5 separate regions of the Homo sapiens genome follow, and all the other regions are linked to region 2. A link means that fine-mapping ties the variant in region 2 to the expression of a gene that starts in the linked region. Tissue or cell type: whole blood. Region 2 holds a variant in brackets; each other region holds the start of a gene. Each region is shown on its reference strand, or each on the opposite one. Region 1 holds the start of C1orf198 (chromosome 1 open reading frame 198). Region 2 has its middle 12 kb from the start of ZNF367. Region 3 holds the start of MGAT4B (alpha-1,3-mannosyl-glycoprotein 4-beta-N-acetylglucosaminyltransferase B). Region 4 holds the start of TNNC2 (troponin C2, fast skeletal type). Region 5 holds the start of C1orf116 (chromosome 1 open reading frame 116).

Region 1 (4,671 bases), not on the chromosome of region 2:
TGGGATTATAGGCGTGAGCCACCGTGCCCGGCCGGAGTTTGGCTATTTTTATTCCCTCCAGGAGTAGATAAAGATATATGTAAAAAAAAAAGTTTCTAATTTCAGCCAAGTCATCTGTTAGAGCCATACTTTAATTCCCCTGAGTTTCTTCTTATAATCTGGAAGAATTTTTCTTTCAGTTAGCCCCTTATCATCCAGATCATGGACTTTACATACTTTGGCCAATGTCCCTGAATTATCTCACGCTTTTATTATCTTGAAAACTTCTTTGACAATCAATTATTGCCAGACCCAAAACACCTCATGGGGTTGTGGTTTTTTTTTTTTTGAAAGCAACAATTATTTCCACAACTGCTTTGAAAACAGCATGAGACCAAGTTTCTAAGGGTACGGACAGCTTCTTATGTGAATATCAAAGCAAGCCTGGGGATGTTAATTAATTTCAAGAATATATCTTTAAACATTACCTATATTATTAAACAAGGATTAGAGGAGAGAAATCAGTGGGATTCAGGTCAATGTATTGAGCTTCTCTAGCATCAACTCAAACAGAAGATCATACTCCAAAAAACTGTCCTTAAACTTCCGGTCTCATAAATAATCCGCCACTTACTGTGGAGACTATATTTGGTGGTGCTTGCCTTTCCCTGCTTCAATATATTATGTTGTGAACATTGTTGATAATAATGTCTTTAACTGTAGAGCCTGCCACATTCATGACATTCCAAAAATATTCTGAGGATTTCTGGGCCGGAAGATGAGGCCATCTCACATTTAAAATAGGACTTTGCAAGTTATTTCTACTTTTGTGTTCAGAACTATCCAGGCAAAGACCCTGGATAACAGCTGAAATGCTGGTTTTTGTTTTTGTTTTTTTATTTTACGAGTGGACACAATTCTCACCTGAGTCCTGTTAGTCTTGTTAAAATCAGTCAGATGGAGAGAGGGGCTTGGGGGAAGTGGGGGCTCGCTATAATTTTAATTTTGTGGTCTGTCTGGGACACACCTCAAAATTACAAACCCTGGCCCCCTACCTGTTGGGATGTCGCCTCTGAGTCTGAAAACTTTCTGCTCCTCTTTGGTTTGTTTGCAAACGTCGAACTGCCAAGAGTTCTGAGCTCCTTGGGTTGGGGAAAGGCACCTGGGCCACCGGGTACTTCATGCACCCACCTGGCCCCGAGGGGCGGCGGGAGCTGACTTTCCTTGAGCACCAGATGCCCCGAACCGGTCCAGCCTTCCAGGTCGCCCTCCAGCCTCCGGGCTGCCCTGCGCCCCCGGCTATCTGCAGCTCACCGCGCCAGGCCCCGGGCCCAGCGTCCTGGACGGGCCCAGAGAAAGCAGAGAAGGTGTGGCTCGTCCCAGAAAGGGACAGAAGGAAAGGAGTAAAAACAGAAGCCAGGCAGCCAGCGGCTTGGCCTGAAATGCTGGGGCTTTCTTAGGCTCACTGGAGGTTGAAAAAAGTTTCCTTTGTCAAGCAGTGGCCACGTGGCGCTATGGCGGTCACTACCGGGAATTAACCACGGCCACCCTCTCAGAGCGCCGGGCGCGGACTCAGGGACACGCCGGCTACCACCTGAGCCGGGTAAGGGGAGCCCGAAACCTGCGGGCACCGCGGTAATCCACTATGGAGGCGTAAAGGGGGACTCGTGGGGTCCGCGAGGGGGTGGCGGGGGGGGGCCCGGAGGGAGGAGCTCCCGGGGAGGGGGCCACGGAGGGCCGGGGTCCCGGGGCTTGGGGAGCTGGGTTGGCTTGGAGACCCGGGTACGCGGCGGTGCAGGGCGGGGTTCCCGGAGGGGGCGGGGCTCCGGGTGGCGCGGGGCGGGGCGAGGGCGGGCACAGCGAGGGGCGGGGCGCGGGCCGGGAGCGGCGGGCAGGCCGGGCATGGCGTCCATGGCGGCGGCGATCGCGGCTTCGCGCTCGGCGGTCATGAGCGGGAACCGGCCTCTGGACGACCGGGAGCGAAAGCGCTTCACTTACTTCTCGTCGCTGAGCCCCATGGCCAGGAAGATCATGCAGGACAAGGAGAAGATCCGCGAGAAGTACGGGCCCGAGTGGGCGCGGCTGCCGCCCGCGCAGCAGGACGAGATCATCGACCGGTGCCTGGTGGGGCCGCGCGCCCCGGCGCCCCGAGACCCCGGGGACTCGGAGGAGCTCACGCGCTTCCCCGGCTTGCGCGGGCCCACGGGCCAGAAGGTGGTGCGCTTCGGGGACGAGGTAGGTGCGGGCCTGGCCGCGGACCCTCTTCCCCTCCCGGCGCCCCGAGGCGCCCCGGCCCGGTGGGCACCTGCCGGCGTGAGGCCGCCCCAGCTGGTAGGGGCTGGAAAAGAAAAGGCAGGAATGGCAGTGGGTGGGAGGGGAGCCCCAGAGCCGAAGTTCGGGGGGTGGGGGCTCCGCTGGGGGAGTTGGTTAAGAGATCGCCGAGAGGTGGGTCGTTAAAGAACCTCCATCTAGACCTGATCCGCCGGCTCGCACGGACTCCAGAGACTTCTCCCGGAGCTGTCGTAAGCGAGGCTGACCAAAGTGGAAACAACAAGCAATTTTAAACCAGACAAGCCTGGGTTTTAATCCAGCTCTGCTACTTACTACCTGTATGGCGGTGGGTCAATTAACTTCTTAGAGCCTCAGTTTCCACTGTGTAAAACGGGGGTAATAACGCCACCCCGTGCCTGCCCGTGAAGGGACTGAGCAAATGATATATACTAACATGAATACTTGTGATGAGATGTATGGGGAAAGTAAAATTGCCAAGCCAGGTAACAAGGAAGAAAAGGTGTCTTCCAAGATAAGGAGGGAAACCCATCCATCACCCTAAGATGTTTTCCAAGTGAGCACAATGCCCAGCGTATGTTTTAAGGGTGAGCATGGTGGCCCTGTTTTCCACCAAAAAACTAAGGGACGATAAGTTTAAATGAGCTCCAGTAAGTCTTGGCCACATAACAGGGCATGTTTAGGTCTCAGATCTAGACACTGTCCAGACTGCTAGAGGGACAGTCATTTGTGAAGGTAGAAACGCTGAATCTGTTCCAGAAAAAGCTCAGGGATGACCCACACTTAGTCACAAACGCCTGAATCTTCTGTAGGGTTCAGAAACTTGGTCTTCTTTTTCTTAGAAATGTGTTTAACCGAAGCCTGTTTGGTGCCATTAGAATTTGCACTGTGACTCTTTGGCGTTTCAAACTCAACTTTTGCCGTGAGGAGCAAAGTCAAGCTGAGCAAAGAGTGTAGGAATGAAATCGCTCGCTGTTAAGGCTGTTTCTTGGGCTAGAGGAAGGAGAAGCTGGGAGAGATTTTTTCCGAGGAAGTTGTGGATTGTGGATGGAATTCAAGTTAAGGAGGTTTAGATCAGATTTTCAGGCTTGGGTGTGCTGAGACATTTATTAATACGAAGTGTTCATGGTCATAAACCCACTTTAATGTGAGGGAAAAGTGAAATGACTGAAGGATGCTGCCAGTGTTTCTTTATTCTGATGGAATCAAAAGGAAATTCTCTACTGGACTTCAAATTCTGATGGCTTTGCCAGGAAAAACAAGGGTGTGGTAAACTGGGGAGGGGAAAATATAGGTTTTAAAATGTATTCCTAGAGCTGAAACATTTTCAGTGGGAAAATAGGCGTATTTATAAAGACTTGTGTGCAGTGTTTGCGCCCAGATTTGGGGGATGAAAAAGCAGGCAGCACTCCTTTGGAAGAGTCACGAATAAATATGACAGGAAGTAAACTTCTAAGTACTTACAAATGTTGGAGAGTGACTGTCATTTTCCCTTAGCTTGGTGTCCAGCTAAGAATATCTACACGCCTACTCATGATGAAAAAGCCCATGTCATAGAAGAGCCCAGTATTACTGACAAGGAAGAATGTGGCCAAGTTAATTTTTTATTCTCATTCCTCATCTGGTGCCAGACTGAGCCGTTTCTGAATTTGTAAACTCAATGTGATTTAAAAGCAAGTGGAACTGTGCCGTGCTGTGGTGCCTGTATGTCCTTCCAGGAGTAACTCAGGAGAATTGAATCTCAGCTTTGCAAAACCAGCTGAGAGCATGTTCTGAAATGCCTCTGACCAGCCTCAGCTCAGACAGCAGAGGGGCAGATAGACCCTGAATTTTAACAGAGGTACATAGGAACATGGCCCAGGGTACATTTTTGCCTGCAGTGTCTGCGTAGGTTAATAGCAGTAGGGAATTTAAATTCCCCTGGACTGCGCCAGAGGTAGGCACCAAAGTGGAGTCAGTTGTCTCATTGTTGTCCCCAGGAGATCATTCATGGAGGAGGGCCAGCTCCTGGGCACAGGGATGATGGATAAGGACAGGATAGGCTGCTGAACAGAGGTACCCCCAAATAGGTGACCCCAAGTTTGTCCTAAAGGACTGTAAACTAGATAGAGTGGGGCCCAATGTCTCTTCCCACTTGATCAGTCTTCTGATGTGGTCCTGGGGCCTCCACAGCCCTTTCCGCTGCCCTGAAGGACACTGCCTATTTCTTTGAATGGTATCCTCTCCCCCATTGCCAGTAATGTTTTTCTATCTCACATAGCAACGTTTTAAGTCAGAGCATGCAAATACAGCCTCCAAATGTGGTGATCATCTTCTAGACATTTCTTGTGTATTGCAGGAACAAATAGAAATTGATTATATGATGCTGATCACAGATCTTGGTGGTTTTGAATGTGGTCAGGG
Region 2 (4,671 bases):
CTGATATAGCCAGGGAATTCGGCAAGAGCTCTGGAGCCATCTTTATCTAAACTCCCAGACAAGCTTTCCATGTAGTTGCGGGGGATGGTGAACAGTATGCACACAAAATACGTGCACATCTTGGCCCGGCACAGTGGCTCATGCCTGTAATCCCAGCACTTTTGGAGGCCAAGGTAGACAGATCTCTTGAGGTCAGGAGTTCAAGACCAGCCTGGCTAACATGGTGAAGCCTTTAGTAGAAGTCTCTACTAAAAATACAAAATATTATCTGGACGTGGTGGCGCACACCTGTAATCCCAGCTACTCAGGAGGCTGAGGCAGGAGAATGGCTTGAATCCAAGAGGCAAAGGTTGCAGTGAGCCGAGCTCATGCCTTGCACTTCAGCTTGGGTGACAGAGCAAGACTCCATCTCAAAAAAAAAAAAATTTGCACATGTGTCTAATGACACTACATTAGATTCTAAAATGTACCTCAGATAAAAATGTAATTCTTGAGGATTGGCTGACTCAAACTGTATCTTGGCATGCTAATTTATACCAAAAGGGACAGATTGAACCATAGACCCTATGTACTAGACACCTACCAATTAGAGACTACCCTTTTGTGTGTGTATGTGTGTGTATCCCCTCTGGGTCTTATTCTTTTGTCCATATTGCTTTTTAAAAATTATATAGGCCAGGCACTGTGGCTCAAGCCTGTAATCCTAGAACTTTGGGAGGCTGAGGCAGGCGGATCACCTGAGGTCAGGAGTTCAAGACCAGCCTGGCTGGCCGGGCATGGTGGCTCACACCTGTAATCCCAGCACTTTGGGAGGCTGAGGCGGGCAGATCACGAGGTCAGGAGATCGAGACCATCCTGGCTAATACGGTGAAACCCTGTCTCTACTAAAACTACTAAAACCCCGTTTCTACTAAAAATACAAAAATTTAGCCAGGTGTGGTGGTGGGCGCCTGTAGTCCCAGCTACCCGGGAGGCTGAGGCGGGAGAATGGCGTGAACCCGGGAGGCGGAGCTTGCAGTAAGCCGAGATTGCACCACTGCAGTCCAGCCTGGGAGACAGAGCAAGACTCCTCTCAAAAAAAAAAAAAAAAAAAAAAAACAAAAAAAAAAACAGTCGGGCGCGGTGCCTCACGACTGTAATCCCAGCACTTTTGGAGGCCAAGACAGGCGGATCACGATCAAGACCATCCTGCTAACACGGTGAAACCCCGTCTCTACTAAAAATACAAAAAATTAGCCAGGCCTGGTGGTGGGCGCCTGTAGTCCCAGCTACTCGGGAGGCTGAGGCAGGAGAATGGCATGAACCCGGGAGGCAGAGCTGGCAGTGAGCCGAGATTGAGCCACTGCACTCCAGCCTGGGCGACAGAGCGAGACTCCGTCTCGAAAAAAGAAAAAAGATAATATTATTACCTCCTTAAAAGCAGAGAAAGCCTTTGGAAAAAAATCCACATACATTCGTCATAAAGCACTCAGGAAGATAGGAATTAAAAAATACGTTCTTAACATAATTGAATGTTATTCCTAAAATTAGTTTCTTATTTAATGGGGATACACTATAGGGAATTCTAGCATTGGAAATAAGGCAAGGATGTTCACTATCCACTACTTTTCAACATTGTATTGGAGGTGTTAACTACTATGATTAGATGACAGAAATCAATTACAGGTTGAGCATCCCTAACCTGAAAATCCAAACTTGAAAATGCTCCAAAATCTGAAACTTTTCGAGTGCTCACATGATGCCAGAAATGGAACATTCCACACCTGACCTCATGTGATAGGTTGCAGTCAAAATGCAGTTGCACAACATGGTTTATTCAGCATCCCCAACAGAAAAAAAGACCCTCCCGGCCCCTTTCAGCTGTGGTATATCTTTTCTGTGCATGCCCAGATTACCCCCCAACAAGCGTGCCTGTAAAGGGTAATAAAATTGTACATATGCAGCTGGATGCACCAATGGCAGGTTCCCCACAATGCCCCATATAGGGCCAAGACCTATGTGCATTACTCACTGTG[T/G]TTTTTTTTTTTTTTGCTTATTCTCTGCTCTGTGTTTAAAGATATTGTTGGAAATGCCAAAAAGATACCCCTATGGGTAACAGTGATAAGAAAAAAAAGAAGCACTTATGTTTATCTATAGCACAGAAAGTCATGCTGTTGGAAAAATTGGATGGCGGTGGAAGTGTGAAATGCCTTACAGAACAGTATGGTGTTGGAATGACCACCATATGTGACCTGAAGAAACAGATGGATAAACTGTTGAACTTCTGTGCTAAAAGTGATGGATAGAAGTTAATGAAAAATAGAAAAACACTGCAAAGCTGAAAATGAAGATCTTGATCATGTATTGAAAGAGTGCATCCATTAGCATTGCAGTGAGCATATGCCACTTAATGGCCTGCTTATCATGAGACAAGCAAAGATCTATCACGATGAACTGAATATTGAAGGGAACTGTGAATATTCAGCAGGCTAGGTGCAGATTTAAGAGAAGACACAGCATTAAATTTTTTTAAAGATTCGTGGTGATCATGAAGCAGCAGAGAAATTAACTAGTGTGCCAAGGTCATTGCTGATGAAAATCTGACAGCAGAACAAGTCTATAATGCTGATGAAACATTATTGTTTTGCTGTTATTACCCCAGAAATACATTGACTACAGCTGGTGAGACAGCCCCTACAGGAATTAGGGATGCCAAGGACAGAATAACTATGTTGCAATGTGCTCATGCAGCAGGCACACATAAATGTAAACTTACTGTGACAGGCAGGTGAAAAAGCTTGCTGTTTTCAAGGAGTGAATTTTTTACCAGTCCATTGTTCTGCTAACAAAAAGGCAGGGATCATCAGGGACAGCTTTTCTAATTGTTTTCACAAACATTTTGTACTAGTGGCATGTGCTCACTGCAAAGAAACTAAACTGAATGAGGACTGTAAGATTTTGTTATTCCTTGATACCGATTTTGCTCATTCCCCAGCTGAAATTTTCATCAAAAATGTTTGTGTCGGCTGGGTGCGGTGGCTCACGCCTGTAATCCCAGCACTTTGGGAGGCCAAGGCAGGTGGATCGCCTGAGGTCAGGAGTTCGAGACCAGCCTGGCCAACATGGTGAAACCCCATCTCTACTAAAAATACAAAAAAATTAGCTGGGCGTGGTGGCACATGCCTGTAGTCTCAGCTACCTGGGAGGCTGAGGCAGGAGAATCGCTTGAACCCAGGAGGTGGAGGTTGCAGTGAGCCGAGATCGCTCCACTGCACTCCGGCTTGGGCGACAGAGCATGACTCCGTCTCAAAAAAAAAAAAATATATATATATATATATGTGTGTGTGTGTGTGTATATATATACACATATATACATATATACATACATATATACATATATACATACATATATACACATATATACATACATATACATATATACACACATATACATACATATACATATATACATATATACACACACATACATATATACATATATACATATATACACATATATACATATATACATATATACACATATATACACACATATACATACATATACATATATACGTATATACACATATATACATATATACATATATACGTATATATACATATATACATATATACGTATATATACATATATACATATATACGTATATATACATATATACATATATATACATATATACATATATATACATATATACATATATACATATATACGTATATGCATATATATACATATATACATATATATACATATATATACATATATACACATATATACACAATATACATACATATACATATATACACATATACATATATATACATATATACACATATACATATGTACATATATACATATATACATATGTACATATATACATATATACATATATACATATATATACATATATATATGTAGTCTGTGTCAGAGCTGGAAGAAGTGGATATTCAAGACGTTTTTAATGAGCCTTGTTCCTTCACTAACTGAGGGTGAAATATCTGAGTTGGTTCTGAACCAAGGTGATCGTGATAACAGTGACAGTGAAGATGATGATGTTAACACTATAGAAAAAGCACCTATAGAGGACCTGGTGAAAATGTATGATGGGCTTATTGAAAACTAGGGCAGTGTGCATTCACAACCAAACAAGAAATCATGTCAATTCATAAAAATCAAGAGAGACGTCTAAGACAGAAACTGGCCGGGGTGATGGCTCATGCCTGCAATCCCAGCACTTTGGGAAGCCGAGGCGGGTGGATCACCTGAGGCTGGGAGTTCGAGACCAGTCTGACCAACATGGTGAGACCCCGTCTCTACTAAAAATACAAAATTAGACAGGCGTGGTGGCACATGCCTGTAATCCTAGCTACTCAGGAGGCTGAGGCAGGAGAATTGCTTGAACCTGGGAGGTGGAGGTTGCAGTGAGCCAAGATCGCGCCATTGCACTCCAGCCAGGGCAACAAGAGTGAAATTCCATTTCAAAAAAAAAAAAAAAAGACAGAAACTGTTGTTAATGAGGCAGATGATGCTGAATGAAACATTTTCAAAAGCCATCCAGCAGATGCCTCCTCACCCCTATGGGACCCACTTCCTGATCCTTTAACTGCTACTGATGTTTTTTTTTTTCACTGAAAAAAAGAAGATACAGTGTACAGCCTTTCAATCAAAAGGTA
Region 3 (4,671 bases), not on the chromosome of region 2:
CAAAAAAATCCAAAAAAATTTGTTTTAAAATTTTTAATGAGATGAGGTGTCACTATGTTGCCCAGGCTGGTCTTGAACTGATGAGCTCAAATGATCCTCCTGCCTTAGCCTCTCAGAGTGCTGGGATTACAGGCATGAGCCACCACACCCGGCTAATTTTTTGTATTTTTTAGTAGAGACGGGGTTTCACCGTGTTAGCCAGGATGGTCTCGATCTCCTGACCTCGTGATTCGCCTGCCTCGGCCTCACAAAGTGCTGGGATTACAGGCATGAGCCACCGCGCCCGGCCTCTGGGTGACTAAGTTTTAACATTAAGTAACTCATTAACAATTTCTAAGGCCCTTTATGTCACAACCTAAGTGAAAAGCCATTATCCTTTGCCACAAATAGAAGACACCTGTGAAAACACGACAGTTTCCTCTAGAAGGCTCCTATAAGTCCCAGTCTCTAGTTCGGAAAGTTCCAGGAGCACTGAGTGGGGAGCCCTCTCCTTTAACAGGGGGCCTCAGGATCCAGCCCACTTCAACCTCTGGCTCGGCCACCCCCTTCTTGGCATCAATCTCTCTGTCCAGACCCCTCGAAGCTCCCGATTCCACTCAGCCCCAGGTGTGGGCCGGGGCTGAACTAGGAAGACAAAGCCGCATTCAATCTCAGTCTGAGTCCAGCCCCTCGGGCCTCCCCCGGGCGGGTGGGGCAGAGGTCCCTGCAGCCTCCACCAGGAACCGGGCCCCTAGGTCTGGGAGGTCCAAGCCGGCAGCGGGCCAGGCGCTGCCCAAAGCCTGCCCAGAGGCGGCGCTGGGCCAGTCCCTTTATAATTTGCGCCCTTCCTGGTTCCACAGAGGATTGAGGAACGCCTGAAATTAGAACGCAAATGGGCCGTGCGTGGTGGCTCACGCCTGTAATCCCAGCACTTTGTGAGGCCGAGGCGGGCGGATCACAAGGTCAGGAGTTCGAGACCAGCCTGGCCAATACGGTGAAACCTCGTGTCTACTAAAAATACAAAAATTAGCCAGGTGTGGTGGCGGCCGCCTGTAGTCCCAGCTACTCGGGAGGCTGGGGCAGGGGAATCGCTTGAACCCGGGAGGCGGAGGGTGCAGTGAGCCGAGATTGCGCCACTGCACTGCAGCCTGGGCAACAGAGCGAGACTCCGTCTCAAAAACAAACAAACAAAAAACAACAAAAAACAACAACAACAAAAAAACAATGAAGGCGTGGGCCCCCATCAATATCGGGCTGGGCTGGGCGGGGCGAGGTGGCCCCTACACCACCGGGGGCAGGGCCCGTTGCTCCCGTTAGCGGCGCTCTCGGGCCGCCCCTGCCCCGGGAAGCCGGTACGGTTCTGGGCTGGTCACTGCTCTGCATCCACGAGCATCGGCCCTGATACCGCCTAGAAAGGCCCATCGTTCCCGCCTCCCGGGCCCCTGCGCGCCTCCGTCCAGAGGCCCAGAGGAAGCTCCTGAGCGGGGAAGCGCCCTGGGCGGCAGCGAAGGCAGCGGTCGCTCCCGGCTTCAACCGCCCAGTCCCCCGCGCCACCCAGAGCCCCTCACGCCCGGGAAAGAGCCCCGAGAACGTGCGAATGGGGTCGGGGTCCGCGCGCGGAGGAGATGTTGCTGAGAAGGGTACCGGGGTCCCGGAGCGCCGCCCCCGCCGCCCGCCCCCCGCCCCGGCTGCGGTCGACCTGCACTCCCACTCCAGCCTTACCTGAGGCCGACTCGCACGAGCCCACGCGGGGCTGCGGGAGCCGATCGGGATCCCGGCCGCCGGCCCCCACCCCACCCCCTCGCGGCGCCGGCGACGGCGGTGCTGCGGCCCCTTTAAATCCGGGCCGCCCCGCCCTGCGCCGTCGACTCCGCGGCGGCCCCAGATCCAGGCCCCAGATCCAGGCCGGGCCGCGGCTCTCGCCGCCCAGCCCAGCCCAGCCCGGCCCGGCCCGGCCCTGCCGCGGAGGCGAGGCCGCCAGTGTCCCGCGCCCCTGATATCTGCAGTGAGCCTGATACCTGCCTCTGCCCTTCTGAGCCTGTTCCTCTTCCCTGAGTACAGGGCACAAAGCTTGCGCCCTGAGGGGCGGCCGGCGCGCTCCCTGGCCCGGTCCCCGCCCGGCCCCGGGCCCCCCGCCCCTCCCCGACCCGGGGCCGGGGCCCCTGCCGCCGCCGCCGCCGCCTTCCGACCCCTGCGCCCCGGCCCCGGTCCCCCGGGCCATGCAGCCTCGGCCCCGCGGGCGCCCGCCGCGCACCCGAGGAGATGAGGCTCCGCAATGGCACCTTCCTGACGCTGCTGCTCTTCTGCCTGTGCGCCTTCCTCTCGCTGTCCTGGTACGCGGCACTCAGCGGCCAGAAAGGTGAGCGCGACCCCCGCCCGGCCCGCACCTGGCGCACCTGGGCGTCGGCGGCGGGAGCGGGCCCGGCGGTGGCCGCGGAAGGCGGCCGGAAGCCGACGCAGGCGCCCCTTCCCCGCCCGGGCGGCGCGAGGACGCCCCTCCCACCCTCCCCCACTTGTTTGCTGCTGGAGCCGCGGCGTTCTCCTCGGGCCCGGGCCGCGCCCGTGGGTGCTCCGGACCGGACTCCGCGGGCGCAGCTGTCCCGACGCTGAGCTGGGGACCCGTGGGGTTCTCGGAGAGGGGCAGAGACCCAAGGTCACAGAGGTCCCGGAACGCCAGCCACAGCCACCTGGGCAGGAGCTGGGGCGGCGTGAGGGACACAGGCGCGAGGGCACCCCCCCACCCTGCTGCCTGCTGCCCCGCGCCGGCCTGGGCGACCCCGGCGTGACACCCGGTCCTGGGACTCCCTTCGGCGCCCAGAACGCGTCGGCAGCATCCGGCCTGTGGGAGGGAGGGAGGGAGGGAGGGAGGCGTCCTGAGGCAGCCCGGCCCCTGCTGCCCTGCGCTCCCGTGCGGCCCCAGCCCGTCCTCCGCACCCCGAGCTTCCCGGGCTGGCCCCCGCCCTCCGCGTGCGCCCAGCGCTCTTGCAGGCGGAGGGTGCGGGCCGATCCCCCCGCGCCGCCCCGCTGGCCGGTCTTGGCGATGGTGGGGCCGAGTAGGGCCTGAGCCCTCGGAGGCGCTCTTCCCCCGGCCTGGAGGTTCCGGGAGAGTGGCCTCCTGCCTGCCTGCCTGCTGGAGGCCTAAGCGGGCTGAGTCCAGCTGCCCCTCGGCCTCCCCGCCACCTGCTTCCCTGTTTCCCTGTCCCGGAGCGCCATCCCAGAGAGGCTGCGGAGGAGGGCGAGGGAACCTGGACCCTTCCGGACCCTCCGAGCTCCATCTACCCACGCCGAGCTCTGCCAGCACGCCCGCCTGCCGCACTTGTTCTGCCAGAGCAGAGGCCTGGGCTGGCCTTGGGGCTCCAGGGCCAGAGAGGCATCACCCAGGGACTCTGCGGGGAGCCTGCCTGACACGGGAGGGATGGCTGGGCAGAGGCCGTGCTGGCGGGGTATATTATCAAGGGCAGGCATGGCTGGGGCAGAATTCTCTGTAGGTAGGGTGTGTCACCTGGGGAAGGACATTCTGGGTCCTTGGCAGGGTGACTATAAAAGCACACTGGCATGAAGGCCTAGGTGGGGCCATATCTGAAGGGCTGGGGCATGCTCTTTGAGTCGTGGGTAGAGCCGTGAGCCCTTGCCCTTTGTCCTGAGCCAGTGTGTGCCTCCCGCAGCAGCCACATGCCCGCGGATTGATGTCAGGAGCCACCTCTGCAAGCCTGGCTTACCACAGGGAGCCAGGCTCCAGGACAGCAGAGTGAGGGAGAGGCACTGGCTCCATGGCACCCACTGTGTCTGGGGGGCATCCAGGAGGCTGGCTCTCTGAGGGCCTGGGGAACAGGAGAGCAAAGAAGGGGAGCACTTAGATTCACGAGCCCAGCCCCTAGGGGATAGAAGCCTAAGGATCCTGTGAGGTATGAGTATGGGGTGACATAGGCCTCCCTTGTCGAGGGGCTGTCACTGTTTCTGTGGTGACCCAGTAGTACCAGGTCTTTGGAGGCCTCAAGAGAAGCTGGGAATCTGGGCTCTTATGTGAACCCATCTCGTTGTCACATGTAGAAAATCTGTCTTAAACCCCTGGTGAAACCAGACGTAGCCAGTCGGAGGCCAGATTGGAACCTGGCCTCCACTTTGCAGCCAGCGGGGGTCCAGGAACTTGAGGGAAGGACCCAGGAAGTGGAATCTGCAGGGAAGGAAGGAGGTGGGCAGGGAACCAGAGAGGAAGGGCAGCAGGTGTGGGCATCATCCTGGAAACGCAAGGTCAAGCCCAGGACGGCCTCTTAGACCAACGCAAAATGGACCCTGGAGAAGGGTTTGGGGCCCAATTTCCTATCTAGCCCGTGCAGCAGCTCTGCCAGCGCTCAAACTGTGGCCCTCGGTCAAGCACCTGCTGAGGATCTGCCCAGGGAGGCAGACCCTTGGGGGCAGCCCGGGGTCTCAGCCATGCAGCGCTCCCAGCCTTCAGGCTGTCCGCCTCCCCAGGCCTGGACTTCAGCAATGATGGACACCCTTACTCCTAGGAGGTTGCAGGGTCTGGAGAGGAGGCAGACACCTGCCACACACATGCATGGTGACAGCAGACCGTTAACGGGCCTGATATCTGCCTATGCCCCTCTGAGCCTGTCCCTTTTCCCTGAGTACAAGGCACAAAGGTTGTGCCCCAGCTTGGCTCTTTAATCTTTCCCCAACCAAGAGGGAAGC
Region 4 (4,671 bases), not on the chromosome of region 2:
TTCTCCTGCCTCAGCCTCAGCCTCCCAAGTAGCTGGGACTACAGGCGCCCACCACCATGCCCGGCTAATTTTTTTGTATTTTTAGTAGAGATGGGGTTTCACTGTGTTAGCCAGGATGGTCTCGATCTCCTGACCTCGTGATCCGCCCATCTCAGCCTCCCAAAGTGGTGGGATTACAGGCCTGAGCCACCGTGCCCGGTCGATGAAACCTTGTCTCTACAAAAAGTAAAAAATTTGCCGGGTGTGGTAGCTCACACCTGTAATCCCAGTGCTTTGGGAGGCTGAGGTGGGCGGATCACCTGAGGTTGGGAGTTTGAGACCAGCTTGACCAACATGGAGAAACCCTGTCTCTACTAAAAATACAAAATTAGCCGGGCATGGTGGCTCATGCCTGTAATTCCGGCTACTCGGGAGGCTGAGGCAGGAGAATTGCTTGAACCCAAGAGGCGGAGGTTGTGGTGAGCCGAGATTGCACCATTGTACTCCAGCCTGGGCAACAAGAGCAAAACTCTGTCTCAAAAAAAAAAAAAAAAAAAAACCAAAAACAAAAATTAGCTGGGCGTAGTGGTATGTGCCTGTAATCCTAGCTACTCAGAAGGCTGAGGCATGAGAATCACTTGAACCTAGGAGGCGGAGGGTGCAGTGAGCCGAGATTGTGCCACTGCATTCCAGCCTGGGTGACAGAGTGAGAGTCTGTCTCAAAAACAAAACCCCAAAAAACCAAAAAACAATAAAAACTAAATTGGAATCCCATGGGTCTCCCTCACCCTTTGGCACCCTGCCTGCCTGGGGGAGGCCTTATTTAGCTTGGCCCAGCCCTGCTGAGCTTTCCTTGGGAATGTCTATATATAGGGGAAGGGGGCAGCCCAGTTGCCACTGTCCATCTGCATTCCTTGGTGTCCAGCCCCCCTTTCCTGGCCCCAGAGCCTGCTATCGGTTGTCTTGGTGCTCTTTCTGTCCACGTAGCCACTGTCTACAAGCCTTGCCTACTCCCCAGTGCCCAGCCTGCACCTTGTGGATTCTCAGGTTGGGCTCCCTCTGGACTTGGTCTGCCCACCCCTTTACTCCCCAGATGACCAGATTTCTTCACTGAGCTCTAGGAAGGGGCCAGCTGTCCTTTTACCACTTAAAGAACCTTCCCCTGCCTACTCCTTACTTCAAAAAAAGTGAATCCAAACACCCTTTCCCTGGAGAAGGTAACTTTCAGAGAAGGATCTTTGCTTTCAATGATTATTTCTCCTCCAAATGCACATCCTCCTCTCCTCCATCCCTCCATACATTTTTCCATCTGGACAGGTGCCCCAAGGACTGTCTGTCCCAACTTCCCTCCAGTCAGGATTAATAATAAGAATCATCAACATGGGTGGGCATGGTGCCTCATGACTGTAATTCTAGCACTTTGGGAAACCAAGGTGGAAGGATCCCCTGAGCCTAGGAGTTCGAGACCAGCCTGGGCAACATGGTGAAACCCCATCTCTATAAAAATACAAAAAAAAAAAAAGCCAGGGGTGGTGGTGCACCTCTAGTCCCAGCTACTCGGGAGGCTGAAGTGGGAGGATCACTTGAGCCCAGGAGATAGAGGCTGCAGTGAGCTATAATAGCACCACTGCACATCAGCCTTGGTGACAGAGTGAGTATAGACCTTTATAATTTACAAAGCTCTGCAGTCAAGTGGGGATAATCGTTGCTACCTCATAGGAGGAGCACTAGATGAGATCATGTTAAAATGCTTAGCACAGTGTGTGGCACGTCATGGGGTTCAGTAAACAGTGGCCTACCTGTCACTTTCTCCTCCTATCCCCTGCCCCTTACCATGGTTCAAAGACGGGACATTCCTCTTGCCAAGCACCAACGCTGTGTACCCAGCACAAGCTAGGTGACTTATACCCGGGTTCCCATTTACCATGGTCTCTCTGTGAGGGAGACCCCACAGACAGGTCCAATCCCACAGATGAAGAAATGGCTCAGAGAGGCACTGCTACCGGCCCAAGGTCACACAACTCGCAGAGGCTGGCCTTGGATCTTGGGTTTTGGACTTCAAGGCTTGTACTCTCCCCATTTTACCATGCTGCCTCACCCTTTACTACTCTGATCATCCTTACCATCTTGGAGCCAGTGTGCTTCCTCGGTCGGGGGGACTCCAAGGCAGTGGAACAGGGCAGGCCTTCCTCACAAGAATCTAGGACGTCAAGGCCTGCCACCTGCTTGGAGGCTTAAATTTCTCTGCAAGGGCCCTTGGCTAAATTAGGTAATGGGTTCAGACTGTGGGAGGGGTGGGACTCGCTGACCCCAGGATCTGATTGGGCAGGGTCTCCAGTGCTGGGGAGCAGGGAGGTGGGAGGGGAGGGTGCCCCTACAAATCCCGGGGGCTAGAGCAGGCCAGGTCATCTTTGGGTGGTGGAGTGCAAAGGAGGCGACCTGCAACAGAGGAGTCCCGGTCACCAGCAACCATGGTAAGGACAAGAGGGGACTTTGTGCCTTTACTCACGGGAGCACTCTGGACCCCTTTCAGGCCAGGCCTGGGTGCTCTGTGGGGCAGTAACTTGGATGTTTGAGGTTGGAGCATGGAGGTTCCTGGAACCCAGGTGTCTTGGAGGAAGGCCTTTGACTTTTCTTGAAAGGGGAGGGCTGGGATATTCCAGAGATTGATCCTTAAGGCTTGCTGACTGCCTACTCACTTCTGGAAACTTCCAGCAGTGTCATTCATAGACCTGTGAAGAGCTCTTAGCTTGTTTCCTTCACACAGTGGGGACTCTGAGGGGTCAGAGTGAGTCACCCAGCAGGCCAGTGGCAGGGGTGAGCCAGAAGCCTGGCCAAACCCTCCTATCATCATGGAGAGAAGAAAGCCTCCTCCAGAAGACGGGAGGCCGGCAGGGCGTGGGGCCTGCTCAGATGCAGGGCTCTGGGAGCCCTGAGGATGATGGGAAGGGGCAGAAGATGACAGACCAGAGTTAGAGAGACTCCGCTCTCCTAGAGAGGGCTTCTGATTTGGAGCTGTTGTTTTGGTCTGAGATCCCCCTCCCCACTTCACTTCAAGGAGTAACTAGATCCCAGAGGCCAGCTGCTGTTGCCCATGCCTGACTAAAAATAGCCTGCCCTCCTGGCATAGGGAAAGAGGAGGAGAGGAAGGAGGGGGAGAAGGAGGAGCACTGGTGGCCAGCTGGCTGAAGAGCTCCTTGGAAGCCTCACCCTGTCCTCACTGCCAGCCTCAATCCAAAGCCTCTGACCCAGATGGCCTGGCTTGGATATGACGTGGAAACCCCTGCAGAAATCTCACTTTCATGTCAAGGCCTCCATCACATTCGGCCCCCCATGAGGGGCCTTTTCTCCAATGACTGAATCCTAAGAAGGAAGCTGACAGCCTCCGACTCTGCCAGTTCTCTGAGGGGCGGGATGATGTGTCTTTTATCTCTTCTTTGTGGTTCCAGTGCCTGATCTGTGGCCTGACATGCAGCAAGTACTCAATAACTTTGTGTTGCATTATTATTTATTTGAGAACAAACATTTTATTGAGCAACTATTAAAGTACCGGGCACCATTAGGAGCTGCAGAAAACTGGAAAATAGTGCTGGAATGGTGCTAGCCCTTTACAAAGCCCTTTCACACCCCTGATATCTCATCCCTGAAAAGCTACAGAGAAAAGATGAAGGCACGCTAATTGACGTGCCTAAGGTCACTGGGGGGTGGGGGGGGTTCCCGACTTGGCCTTCAATTGACAAGTGAGAAGGCCTTGGGCTTAACTTGTTGTCTCCTCTCTTTTGCTCAAAACTGGGGTCACAGGCTGCGCGCGGTGGCTCACGCCTGTAATCCCATCACTTTGGGAAGCTGAGGCAGGCAGATCGCCTAAGGTAGGGGGTTCGAGACCAGCCTGACCAACATGGAGAAACCTCATCTCTACTAAAAATACAAAATTAGCCGGGCGTTGTGGTGCATGCCTGTAATCCCAGCTACTCGGGAGGCTGAGGGAGAAGAATCGCTTGAACCCCGGAGGTGGGGGTTGCGGTTGTGGCGAGCTGAGATCGTGCCATTACACTGCAGCCTAGGCAACAAGAGCAAAACTCCGTCTCAAAACAAAACAAAACAAACAAACAAAAAAAACTGGGGTCAGGCCGGGCATGGTGGCTCACGCCTGTAATCCCAGCACTTTGGGAAGCCGAGGTGGGCGGATCACCTGATGTGAGGAGTTCAAGACCAGCCTGGCCAACATGGTAAAACCTCGTCTCTACTAAAAATACAAAAATTAGCTGGGCGTGTTGGCGCATGCCTGTAATCCCAGCTACTCGAGAGGCTGAGGGAGGAGAATCGCTTGAACCCAGGAGGTGGAGGTTGCAGTGAGCCGAGATCACGCCATTGCACTCCAGCCTGGGCGACAGGGCGAGACTGTCACAAAAACAAAAAGCAAAAACAAAAACTGGGGTCAGAAGCTGGGCACAGTGGCTCAAGCCTGTAATCCTAGCACTTTGGGAGGCCGAGGTGGCAGGATCACTTGAACCCAGGAGTTCAAAACCAGCCTGGGTAATATAGTGGGACCCCATCTCTACAAAAAATTTTAAAAATTAGGCGTGGTGTATGCTATAGTCCCAGCTACTCAGGAGGCTGAAGTGGGACGATTGCTTGAGCCCAGGAGGTTGAGGCTGCAGTGAGCTATGATCACACTACTGCACTCCAGCA
Region 5 (4,671 bases), not on the chromosome of region 2:
AATTTGAAATAGTGATTTATTTCAGCTAGGACATATATGTGTTTGCAGGGAGGGGAGGCTCAAGGCTTGTAAGTAACTTCGACTGTGATGTTTATGTTTTATTTCCTGAACTGGATGTTAGGTACGGTTATGTTTGTTATGTCAGTGTATCTGAAATATTTCATAATTTACAAAAAGAAAAAGTTTTTGAGAGGAAAGGGAGGAAGGGAAAGATGATTTTTGTCTATGTCCCTGCTTCTACCTGGTAAAAGATAGGGGTTCCTCCTAGTTATCCTAATTTTATTATAACTGAAAAACTGTGTCTGTTCACAAATAAGACTGTTGCCTACTATCCTCTTGGAAGTTAATTCTCATAAGTCAATTCATTTTTTTAGCAAATGTTCAAATCACACACCTATGGAGCTGGATCAACTTCATTGACTTCATCCATGGGTGTGACTCTGGTTGCACTGAACTGCTGATTTGGAGATGCCCTTCCTGTTTTGTTAGTATTATGACATCATATATGTTTGAATGACACACCAGGGAAAGAGGTCATAGCCCGAAGTGCTCATTCAGCTGTGATATCCATAGGCTGCTGATAGGGTACTGGGTTATCCCAGGCTTCCTCCAACCTCCTTCCTATCCATTAGTCCTGCTCCACTTCATCTTTACCTTGGCCCCAGGATCACTGCCCTTTTTATTTCCTATCCAACCATGATCACAGAAAGAGAAAAGATGAAAGCCATGTGTCGTCTTGTTATAAAACATATTAATAGCTTTAAGTAGGAAATGAAACAGAAAAGGACGAATCTAATAGCTAGAATTACACTTGCAAATTATCTGTGTATTTCATGATTCCCACTTGAGATTCCTTCCAAAATAGAGGCGGATTGGCATTATGCTGATTCATAGCAACCTTGATGTTATACTGCCTGAATTAAAATCTCTGCCCTGCCTCTTCCTAGCTACATGGCCTTGAAAAAGATTTTTAACCTCCCTGTAAAATTTAGATATTAACAAATGCCTACTTTTTTAAGTTAAAGACTAAATTAAAAGATACATGAAAATGCTCAGCACAATACCTAGCAAATAGCAAGAGCTTAATACATTTTGGCAATTATTGTGTACATTGATTTTAAATTTTCTCCCTGACCTTTTAATGCTAGTAAGTGGAATACCTCAAATCCTGATACCTATCAAGGATAATCTACCTGTAGGAAAAACCAGCTTCCAGGCAAAAATCATATCTGTTAAGAGTGGTCTCTGTACCTGGTGGGAAATTTCTTCCCAAAAATAGTAGATTCTTCTACCTACTCTCTTCTCCCTACGAATGCCAAGTATCAGTCCATGAAAGGAGACAAGAGTTGCTAAACTGGTTGGTAGTTTGTTTTGTTTTTATTTCATAATATGTATTGCCACCTTCCATGAACAGCCAAAAGAGAGCAGAGGACCAAATGACAGAGTGCATGCTCTCTCCTTTCAAGCTGTCCAGTCACTCTTTCATCAGGACACGGACCTCTTAGGGGATGAATGGTTTTATTTCCCCCAGAAATAAATTAGGCCAAGGAGATTGTTGGCAAGCACTGGGGCGAGACTGGCCCAACTACAGCATCCCTAGCCTGGGGACACCTTCTTCAGTGGACATGAATGGAATTGCTAGGCTTATGAGCTAGGATTAGGCTTGGGGAAGAAAGTGACTTTCAACATCTAGAAAAGCTAGCAGCAAAACTGAACACAAATGAGTTTAGCCTAGAGAATTCAGGGGAAAACTAAGCTCCAAGCGGAAGAAGGTAGTTCTAGATGAAAAACCTGTTTCACATAGACCTATGGAAAAGCACACTGCCCAGAGGACTGTCTGCGTTCCTTTATATCAACATTAAATATATATACTATCTCTGCCTACTCCCTCCCTGCCACCTGTCCTTCCAGTCTCAGCCCAAACCGGCTCCTCCTCCTTCCAGCCCTCCTTTTTTAAAGAGCTCTTTATTAGCTCTAAACAGGAAAGGGGAGGGTAGGAGATGATTGGCTAAGAGGGAACAGCACCACCCTGCTCATTCCCCTCCCATTCCCTCCCTGAGGAAACAGCTGGAATGAGAGGTAGGGAGGGGAGGCTAGGATTGGCTGAGTCAGTGGCAGGGTGGGGGCCAGGCAGCACAGATGAAGCATTTACCTATCTAGGTAAGTCAGGAGGAGCTCAAAAGGAGAAGAAAACAGTAGGAGGCAGGGGAAGCAGCCTCTGTCTCCATCTCTGCCCTTTGAAACAAAAGGGTATTTCTTTTCTCTCTTCAGCCCCCAACCCAGTGGAGGTGAGTTAATCACTAACCAACTATTGCTTATCCTATAGCAATAGGAAGGGGTTTCATGGGAAATCAGAGCTACAGGGGAGGGGAGGTGTCCCTCTATACCCCAGCTAGGGAGATTTCCTCTCTGTTCCTCAATTCTCTGAGTCCATTCTGGGATCAGATCAGGTTGGTAGCAACTTGAGATTGTAGTGTTTTTGTGGAGACTGGGGCTGGGAGGCACCTTCTTTTTCATTTATCCCTTTAGGTTGGATAGGCATATTGTGCAAACAACAAGAAAAAGAAAATAGATTTGTTTTGGAAATTTCCATCTCTGAACAATTGAAATTGAGTTGTGATTTTAGAAAAGAACAGTTGAAATAGAGGGAGTCAAAATGGGGGAGAGTATCTTGGTTTTCCATAGCGACTGTAACAGGAAATTCTCCCGTGGCTTTACCAACTCGGTGTCGATCTTTATTTAAATAATGGGTGCAATGTGTGTGTGTGTTTGATCATGCTCATGTGATAATGGAGCTCTCTGTGTACAGGTGTGTTAGGCATGAGCTGTACTAGGTTGTTTGTAAAGGGATATGAGGTTGGGGCACATGGAGAAAACTTCAGCTACCAGCTCATCTTTGGAAAACCCATGGATAATCTAGCTGCAAAGTCAAGTTTATTTGGATTCTACTCAATTAACTTTCTGACTCAGCCTGTTAATAGACACAGAGACTGGCAAACAGAAAGCTACCTGGCTGTGCCGAGCCTCACCCACATGAATATTTCGTGGCTGCATGTCAAGTCTAGTTAGAGTTCCAAGTGGGGCTCAAGCCAAGGTAGTGTGGCAGAGTCCACAGACAGAGAAGCAGACCAGGGTGGTGGCTTTGTTTGTTTTCCTGCAGGTGTCCCAGTTGGCAGTTTGTGTGGCAGATTTACCTGCAGAAGGAAGGCAGATGTAGGAGTCGAGTCAGAGTAGCAAGTTGCCTCTCCATTATCCATCTTGGGGGGTTTAACCCTTTGGTCCCTAACTTTGACTCTTTTCCTCCTGCTGCAGAGAAGAGGGAAGTGGGAAGCCCTCAGTGCCAGGCTCAAGGGCCTGGCACACGCAGCCCTGAGTGAATATATGGGTTTTCCAGTCCTGGCAACTGGAGATTTAGGCTTGAGCTCACCTCACACCACAGAGCCAACACCCCACACTCACAGACTGAGGGCTGCCCTAGATGGTGAATTTAGGAATAAAGACCACTGGCAGTGTCTAACAAAGCTCTGCTATGCAGAGGGTATTTCTACCTGCTCCTTCCCTCAAACACACTGGTGAAAGGGAAGATGATAATGTTGCCTAAACACACACAGAAACTTGCCCATGTGTTCATGGAGACAGATATGCAAACTGTGCAAGTTTTAGTCATTCTGCTATTTTTCTTAGGATATTTTCCAGCCCAAGGCACATTTCTGGGTAGTCAACAAGAAGCAAAGACACCTGGATTGAAAGACAGGAAACCTCTTTGACTAGTAGGCAGAGAGGCAAAGCTCTTGGAGGACATGTGGGGGGTTCGTGGGAGGAGGATGAGAGGGACCTGGGTCTGATTAGAAGGTACAGACAAGCCAACCTGGAATGGAGCTGGAGCCCTCTCCCCACCCCACCATCTCCAGATGCCAGAACTTGAACTGTTCTTTATTTCCTCTCCTCCAAGGCTTGGCAGTATTTAGTATTTTAGTCAGTGGTGTAGTTAATATTTAATGTGTCTTTGGATGGGTGGCCCTGACTATAGGTGCTGCATATTTCTTAACCCATTCCCTCCTCCCGTTAAGTTCCCAAAGAGGTCAAGGGTTAAGATACCAAACTCTCACCTTGAGTGTTTTGTTTGTTTCTCAGTCTTCTTATCAGGGTTTCGATGGCTGCCCTGAAAGAGCCCCAAGGTTCAAGGTTGTGAAGTCGGTGAAAGGAAATGCAGCTTTCACCATTAAGATTCTTTAGGTCAGAAAACTAGGTATGGAGATGAGGTGACAGCGCCTCGCTCAGCTTTGGTTTCAGGTTCAGATTCCTCTGTGCAGGGATTATGTAATCCCTAAAGACATGATCTTCCTTGGCAGTTGGTGTCATTTCTTTACTGTAGAAATATCTGCTGTTGGGGCAATACACTGGTCTGGAAGTATAAAGCTGAAGCAGATGATTTGCAGGGTTTAAGGTATGAAGTAGAAGGAGAAGGGGGTTTTAAGGCTTTTAGTATTTTAGTCAGGGGTGGCTAGTAACCATTCTCGGGGGCATGCCCCTCTTGCATCCAGATAGTCCCTGAAATGCCCTGTGGAGGGCTGCCCTGTATATGCATGTATAGGTCATTCCCTGTTTCCCTTAGGAAGGGCTAGTGGTAAGAGCCATAACTTTCTCACCCGTAAAATGAAGAAAACGTCA

What was found.
Region 1: it holds the start of C1orf198, and the variant in region 2 is fine-mapped to the expression of C1orf198 in whole blood (TOPMed, PIP above 0.99).
Region 3: MGAT4B starts here. The variant in region 2 is fine-mapped to the expression of MGAT4B in whole blood (TOPMed, PIP 0.96).
Region 4: TNNC2 starts here. The variant in region 2 is fine-mapped to the expression of TNNC2 in whole blood (TOPMed, PIP 0.95).
Region 5: it holds the start of C1orf116, and the variant in region 2 is fine-mapped to the expression of C1orf116 in whole blood (TOPMed, PIP above 0.99).

The regions. Positions count from the first base shown.
Region 1 is chr1:230,865,723-230,870,393 of GRCh38, reverse strand. C1orf198 (chromosome 1 open reading frame 198) reads left to right here and starts at 1,873. Exons shown (of 4, transcript NM_032800.3): 1 at 1,873-2,214. The coding sequence starts at 1,882. RefSeq lists an enhancer at 1,310-1,901 and a silencer at 1,725-1,944.
Region 2 is chr9:96,427,982-96,432,652 of GRCh38, reverse strand. No RefSeq gene overlaps it. Among named protein-coding and RNA genes, the nearest start is that of ZNF367, 12 kb to the right of the region's middle. The variant T/G (reference allele first, on the strand shown) is at 2,016.
Region 3 is chr5:179,804,154-179,808,824 of GRCh38, reverse strand. It overlaps MGAT4B (alpha-1,3-mannosyl-glycoprotein 4-beta-N-acetylglucosaminyltransferase B), which reads left to right and starts at 1,959. Exons shown (of 15, transcript NM_014275.5): 1 at 1,959-2,338. The coding sequence starts at 2,242. It also overlaps a transcript of SQSTM1 not described here. RefSeq lists silencers at 1,215-1,384, 1,555-2,114, 2,345-2,414, 2,545-2,674, 2,685-3,104 and an enhancer at 2,142-2,803.
Region 4 is chr20:45,825,028-45,829,698 of GRCh38, reverse strand. It overlaps TNNC2 (troponin C2, fast skeletal type), which reads left to right and starts at 2,387. Exons shown (of 6, transcript NM_003279.3): 1 at 2,387-2,453. The coding sequence starts at 2,451.
Region 5 is chr1:207,030,196-207,034,866 of GRCh38, reverse strand. It overlaps C1orf116 (chromosome 1 open reading frame 116), which reads left to right and starts at 2,111. Exons shown (of 4, transcript NM_023938.6): 1 at 2,111-2,288. It also overlaps a transcript of PFKFB2 not described here.